Linked DNA regions of Homo sapiens. The protein of the gene in region 1 purifies or fractionates together with the protein of each later gene. This does not show direct contact. Each region holds a gene or a part of one and is shown on either strand. Other genes may lie near its edges.

Region 1 (3,500 bases):
CCTGGGTTCAAGCGATTCTCCTGCCTCAGCCTCCTGAGTAGCTGGGATTACAGGCATGCGCCACCATGCCCGGCTAATTTTGTATTTTTAGTAGAGACGGGGTTTCTCCATGTTGGTCAGGCTGGTCTCGAACTCCTGACCTCAGGTGTTCTGCCTGCCTCGGCCTCCCAAAGTGCTGGGATTAAAGGCCTGAGCCACTGCACCCAGCCTCTGGCACTTTTTTATATACCTTACAACACCTGAGAGAGTGCCCTGGACAAAGTGGATGCTCTTAAGAATGGATGACTACTTATGGGTAATTAGAAGATTAGAAGTATGATTTGATCAGTTGGAGACCCAAGAATCTGGTTTTATATGGCAGGTTCAATATTTGTTTTACCAGATTCTTTTCTGCATCCTTGATTTTTGGGATCAGTTAGTGGTGCAGGAAACTAAAGCTTTTGGAACTCTTTAGGGAGAGACCCAGAAAGGGGCAATGTATGTTTTCCTGTCACTGTAGATGAATCGGACAAAGGGTGATGAGGAGGAGTATTGGAACAGCTCCAAGTTCAAGGCTTTTACCTTTGACGATGAAGACGATGAGCTTTCACAGGTAGGTCAACTGCTGAAGTTTGTACTCTTCTCCACAGTGCCACTATAAAATTCCTTCCTCTTGCATTCTGGGTAACTAGGCTTTTGACCATGTATGTCTTCATTAGGCTCAGAAAAGAGCCAGAAGGATTGTAAAATCCAGCTCACTGCCTTTCTTACTTTACCTTTTTAAGATGATTTATTCCTACAGGTTTTTTTTTCTTTTGAAGAACCCCAAGTCTTTTATTTATGTGATATATATTTTTTTATTTTTGAAAGATGAACTGGATTGGAAGATTTATCTTTGTTGTGTCTATTTTGCAATTGAGGAATCATTTATTTTTAGAGAGGTGAATAAATTCACTCAGGTTTACATAGCAAGTCACTGCCAGGAATATGATGAGAATTCAAAAGTGACTTTGATTCCTCCTAACTCTTTTATCACTGGACTGTAGTGTTGGCTAAAAATCAGTTTGTTTTCTTGGCAAATATGTAGTATGCTAGGCTTTCGATTGCACAGGGCGAGTGTTGGCCACCTTCAGGCCCCAATTCCTCAGCCTTCTTGATTGTCAGAAGAGAGGTGGGAAATGATGATTTGCCTGAGCACCCTAGCCTTGTGTCCCTCTGCAGTTAAAGGAGTCCAAGCGGGCGGTGAACAGCCTCCGAGACTTCGTGGATGATGATGACGATGATGACCTGGAGCGAGTCAGCTGGAGTGGGGAACCTGTGGGAAGTAAGTAGAAGAGTCCCTAGGCAGGGATAGATGTTGAGGATTCTTATCACTGATAAAGGCTCTACTTGTTTGTTTCTTCAATGCTAGTTAGGAGAGGGACTAGGATAAGACTATTTTCAGATAAGCATACATCTGGAAACTTAACTCCAGGAGAAGATACTTGGGAAATCCAGCAGGAGTTCCCACATGGCTATATAGGTCTGCTCTTCAGGGGTTGACTCTTAGCTGGCTATTTCATTCTCATTTGGGGTGCTTGTTAAAATGACATACTCCTAGGCTTTATCCCAGAGATTCTGTTCATTAGGTCTTCTGCGGAGTAGAGGGGGTCTCAAATTTTAATAAACACTGCAGGTGATTCTGATATATAGCCATATTTGGGAACTACTGACTTGACTCAGTATACTAATAACTGATTGACAGAACGGACTTCCTTACCCACCAAGTCTCACTGCTTAGCTGTATATGATACCACTTAATACTTTTTCAGAGTCCATTTGATTTTTTTTTTTTTTTTTTTTTGAGATGGAGTCTTACTCTGTTGCCTAGTCTGGAGTGCAATGGCGCGATCCTGACTCACTGCAACCTCCGCCTCCCAGGTTCAAGCGATTCTCATGCTTCAGCCTCCCTAGTAGCTGGGATTAAAGGTGCCAACCACCATGCCTGGCTAATTTTTGTATTTTTAGTAGAGATGGAGTTTTACCATGTTGGCCAGGCTGGTCTTGAACTGCTGACCTCAAGTGATCCGCCTGCCTTGGCCTCCCAAATGCTGGGATTATAGGTATGAGCCACCATCCCTGGTCCCCATCTGATTTTTAAGAAATATTTTTAATTGAAAGTTTTTAAAAAATAGGCCATACTATAATGTGACTAAAGATTAAAAAAAAAAAATTAAAGGTCTACAGTGAAAAGTTTCCGTTCCATATTGTTATGTATCTTCTCAGTTTTCAGTTCATGTCCTCCCAAAAAACAATCGTTGCTTGGTTCCTGTGTATTCATCTAAAGACTCTTTTTGCATCTGGAAAAGTATATAGAAACATGTATTCTTATCCCATTTTTACACAAGCAGTAGCATGCTTCATACCTTGCTCTTTTTATGTGTTAATATAGCTTGGAGATCTTTCCATGTCAGTATATAAAGAGTGTTCTCATTTTCTCTTTCTTTTTTTTAAATAGCAGCATAGTATTAAATTGTATGGGTTTACCATCATTTTTTAGCCAGCCCACTGTTGAATTTTAGATTTTTCAATCTTTTGCTCTTTATATTTCTATCATTGACTTTATATTCTGACCATAGATGCATAAATGAAAGAGCAATTCTTAGAGTGGAATTACTCACATAGGATGTTTGCATCTGTATTGGGTAGATATTGCCAAATTGACCTCCACAGGGGTTGTACCAATTCATACTACCACCAGCAATGGAGGAGGGTTCCAGTTTCCCTATAGCCTGGCTAACACGGTATTATCAAGCTTTTGGATCTTTCCCCATCTTATAGGGGACTAATGGTTTCTCATTATATTTTTAATTTGTAGTACTCTTAGCAAAGCTGGGGGCAGGTGGTGTGTGCCTCTGGAGGGTAGTGGCGATGGATGGCTTGAGGCCAGGAGTTGAGGCTGACGTGAGACATGACTGTTAGATATGATTGTGAATAGCCACTGTACTCCAGAGCTCCGGCAATGTAGTGAGACCCTGTCTCTAAAAAAAAAGAAAAAAAGAGAAAAAAGAGTAAGGTTGAGCATCTTTTCATATGTTGAAGAGCCATTTGAATTTTCTGTGATCCACCTATTCATGTCCTTGGTCCATTTTTCTGCTGATTAGTCTATTTGATTCTATCTTTTCTCCCTGCCCCAAGTTGGCCAAGGGACCAGGGCTTCTGGTGAAAAGCTTTTAGAGTTTATTGAATGTTGGATGTCAAGGCTTTATTGTGGATGAGAATTGCTGATGTAGTTCTTACTATCTCACAGGTATCTCATGGTCCATCAGAGAGACTGCTGGTAATAGCGGCTCAACCCACGAGGGGCGTGAACAGCTAAAGAGCCGAAACAGCTTCTCCTCCTATGCACAACTACCCAAGCCTACTTCTACCTACTCCCTGAGCAGCTTTTTTAGAGGTAAAGAGAGATGCTTAAATGGATAGGGAAGTCCTTCTCTTTTTCCAGAAAAATCTTAGGCCATAATTTTCATTTACTTTGTAAG
Region 2 (3,500 bases), on another chromosome or scaffold:
GCCAGAACTGAGGGGGCCCTGAGGGTCCAGGGCCTGAGGAAGAGAGAGCGGGGTTGTCACTTGTCAGGCCCTCTGCCCCAGGGAGGAAGGATGGCAGACATGGTGGGGAGCGTTTGGTTATTATTGAGAGTGTCGCCGGACTACTCTTTCAAGTGTGGTATATTTTAACGTTTCCCTGAATATGGCAGACCATCGAGAATATGTCAAAAGACACGCTTTTTGGCAAAACCACTTAAAACTCCAGATCAGATGAACGTTCAAGGGCAAAAGACATTGAGGGCTGGGTGCGGTGGCTCACGCCTGTAATCCCAGCACTTTGGGAGGCTGAGCGGGGAGGATCATGAGGTCGGGAGTTCTAGACCAGCCTGACCAAAATGGTGAAACCCCTTCTCTACTAAAAATACAAAAATTAGCCAGGTGTGGTGGCATGTGCCTGTAATCCCAGCTACTCAGGTGACTGAGGCAGCAGAATCACTTGAACTCAGGAGGTGGAGGTTGCAGTGAGCTGAGATTGTGCCACTGCACTCCAGCCGGGGCAACAGAGCAAGACTGTCTCAAAAAAAAAAAAAAAAAAGACATTAAGGAACTCCTCTCCAAATAGCATTCATATTTTACTTAATTTTTTTAAGTTGTACTACTACAAAGACATCTCTTTTACAATATTTTTTAAAAGATGTAAAAGTTAACAACAGATTTTAATCTTGGTTGTTTTTCCTTTTTTGAGACAGAGTCTTGCTCTATCACCCAGGCTGGAGTGCAGTCGGGCAACCTCAGCTCACTGCAACCTACACCTCCCGAGTTCAAGTGATTCTCCTGCCTCAGCCTCCTGAGTAGCTGGGATCATAGGTGCCCACCACCATGCCTGGCTAAGTTTTTGTGTTTTTAATAGAGATGGGGTTTCACCACGTTGCCGAGGCTGGTCTCGAACCCCTAACCTCAGGTGATCCGTCTGCCTTGGCCGCCCAAAGTGCCACCACACCCAGCCCAATACCCTTAACATTTAAATGCGCATTTTTTTAACCCCAAAGTCTCACATACCCACACAGCAGAATACCTTGCAGAATACCATACAAGAGGCAGGTTTTATATATGCTGATTTTTATATATACGCGTAAAGGCCACAGTACCTTAAGCAATGTTATTGAGCATTTGACTGGGCAGAACTCTAATTCCCACATTTTACACAGAACAATGACATAGATGGTCACAACTGTAACTCAAAACACAGAGAGATCTAGATGTACCTCCTGAAGCCAATCACAGAAATACGATTAACGTCATCTCCACCAAAAATCGGGGCTGACTTTAACATTAGGCTCTTAGGTCGAAGCTCTTAGCTGTGCCATCCGGATAAAGTCCTTTCTTTTTCTTTCTGCCACTTCCTCTAACTCCCCCAATCCACCCCCCCGCCTTTTTTTTTTTTTTTGAGATAGGCTCTCGCTCTGTTGCCCAGGCTGGAGTACAGTGGTGCAATCTTGGCTCACTGCAACCCCTGCCTCCTGGGCTCAAGTGATTCTCCTGCCTCAGTCTGCGAAGTAGCTGGGATTACAGGCATGCACCACCACACCCAGCTAATTTTAATTTTGTTTTATTTTTAGTAGAGATGGAGTTTTGCTATGTTGCCCAGCCTGGTCTCGAACTACTGACCATAGATGATCCGCCCACCTCAGCCTCCCAAAGTGCTGGCAGGTAGGAGCCACCATGTCCGGCCAAAACAGCATCTTAGGTGAATATACAAAGCCAAAGGCTTGAAATTGTCAGTAGAAAATAGTTCTGGCCAGGCGCGGTGGCTCACGCCTGTAATCCCAGCACTTTGGGAGGCTGAGGCGGTGGATCGCCTGAGGTCAGGAGTTCGAGACCAGCTTGGGCCACATGGTGAAACCCTGTCTCTACCAAAAACACAAAAAATTAGCCAGTGTGGTGGCTGGCGCCTGTAGTCCCAGCTACTCAGGAGGCTGAGGCAGGAGAATCACTTGAACCCAGGAGGTGGAGGCTGCAATGAGACGAGATGGCACCAACGCACTCCAGCCTAGGCGGCAGAGTGAAACTCAGTTTCAAGGAAAAAAAAAAAAAAAAGAAAATAGTTCTGCCCTTTCTTACAAATCATAAGTAAAATAAACAGGTTATTTCTCCTCTGCACAGATTTTGTCACTCCAAGAGAGTTTGCTTCGGCTGCTACCAATTCCCATTAAATACACAAATATGGATTAATTAAAAATGAGTATACCATCACAGGTATGTGATAAAGCACATATAGAAAACTGTTAATCCAGAAGATAAGTGGTGGATAGACAGGTGTTCACTGTACAATTCAATTTTTTGGTATATTGAAATTTTCCTATAAAATGTTAGAAGGAAATCTATATTACCATCAGGTAGGATTTCGTGTAAGCAAACCACTAGGGAACAAGGTACAAAAGAGCCAAGAGGGTTGGGCGCAATGGCCCACGCCTGTAATCCCAGCACTCTGGGAGGCCGAGATGAGCAGATCATGAGGTCAGGAGTTCGAGACCAGCCTGGCCAACATGGTGAAACCCCGTCTCTACTAAAAATACAAAAAATTAGCCAGGTGCAGTGGCGGGCACCTGTAATTCCAACTACTCGGGAGGCTGAGGCAGGAGAATCGCTTGAACCTGGGAGGCGGAGGTTGCAGTGAGCCGAGATTGCGCCACACAGCACTCCAGCCTGGGGAACAAGAGTGAGACTCCGTCTCAAAAAAAAAAAAAAAAAAAAAAAAAGCCAAGAAAGTCCCCTGGTTATAGGATTAGTCGGTGGTGCCACTGACTTCTACTGCCCCAGATTAACTTTTTTATTTTTCGCTTTTTCTGTGGCCGGGTCTCACTCTGTCACCCAGGCAGGAGTGCACTGGTGTGATCACAGCGCCCTGCAGCCTCAACCTCCTGGGCTCAAGTGATCCTTCTGCCTCAGCCTCCTGAGTTACTGGAATGACAGGTGCACATCACCACGTGTGGCTAGTTTTTTGTAAAGACAGGGCCTCACTCTGTTGCCCAGGCTGGTCTCGAACTCCTGGCCTTAAGTGATCCTCCCACCTTGGTCTCCCAAAGTGCTGGGATTACGGGCATGAACCACTGTGCCTGGCCTATTTTATTTTTTTAAATAAGTTTCATTTTTCCCCCTTTTGTGAAAACTGTCAACAAATTAACTCTTTTAACGAGGTGATCTCTGTAACAACACAATGGGGAAAAAAAGATTCCAATAATTTTATGTACTATACCAGCGGTTCCCTAAAGTTCTAGTCTCTACCTTCGAAGTATTTTATTGGTAAGAAGAAAAAAAGGCCAGGCACAGTGGCTCACACCTGCAGTCCCAGCAGTTTGGGAGGCTGAGGCAGGCAGATCTCTTGAGGTCAGGAGTTCGAGACCAGCCTGGCCAACATGGTGAAACCCCATCTCCACTACAAATACAAAAATTAGCCTGGCGTGGTGGCGCGTTCCTGTAATCCCAGCTACTCGGATAGCTAAGACGGGAGAATTGCTTGA

Evidence for each region.
Region 2: the proteins of VIPAS39 (region 1) and VPS33A purify together in Homo sapiens (affinity purification with western blotting; one study listed by BioGRID and IntAct). This does not show direct contact.

The regions. Positions count from the first base shown.
Region 1 is NC_000014.9:77,451,102-77,454,601, reverse strand, and holds part of VIPAS39 (spermatogenesis-defective protein 39 homolog), read left to right. Parts: intron 1-499; coding exon 500-592; intron 593-1,200; coding exon 1,201-1,303; intron 1,304-3,268; coding exon 3,269-3,415; intron 3,416-3,500.
Region 2 is NC_000012.12:122,252,995-122,256,494, forward strand, and holds part of VPS33A (vacuolar protein sorting-associated protein 33A), read right to left. Parts: intron 550-3,500; coding exon of another isoform or gene 472-549; exon of another isoform or gene 1-471.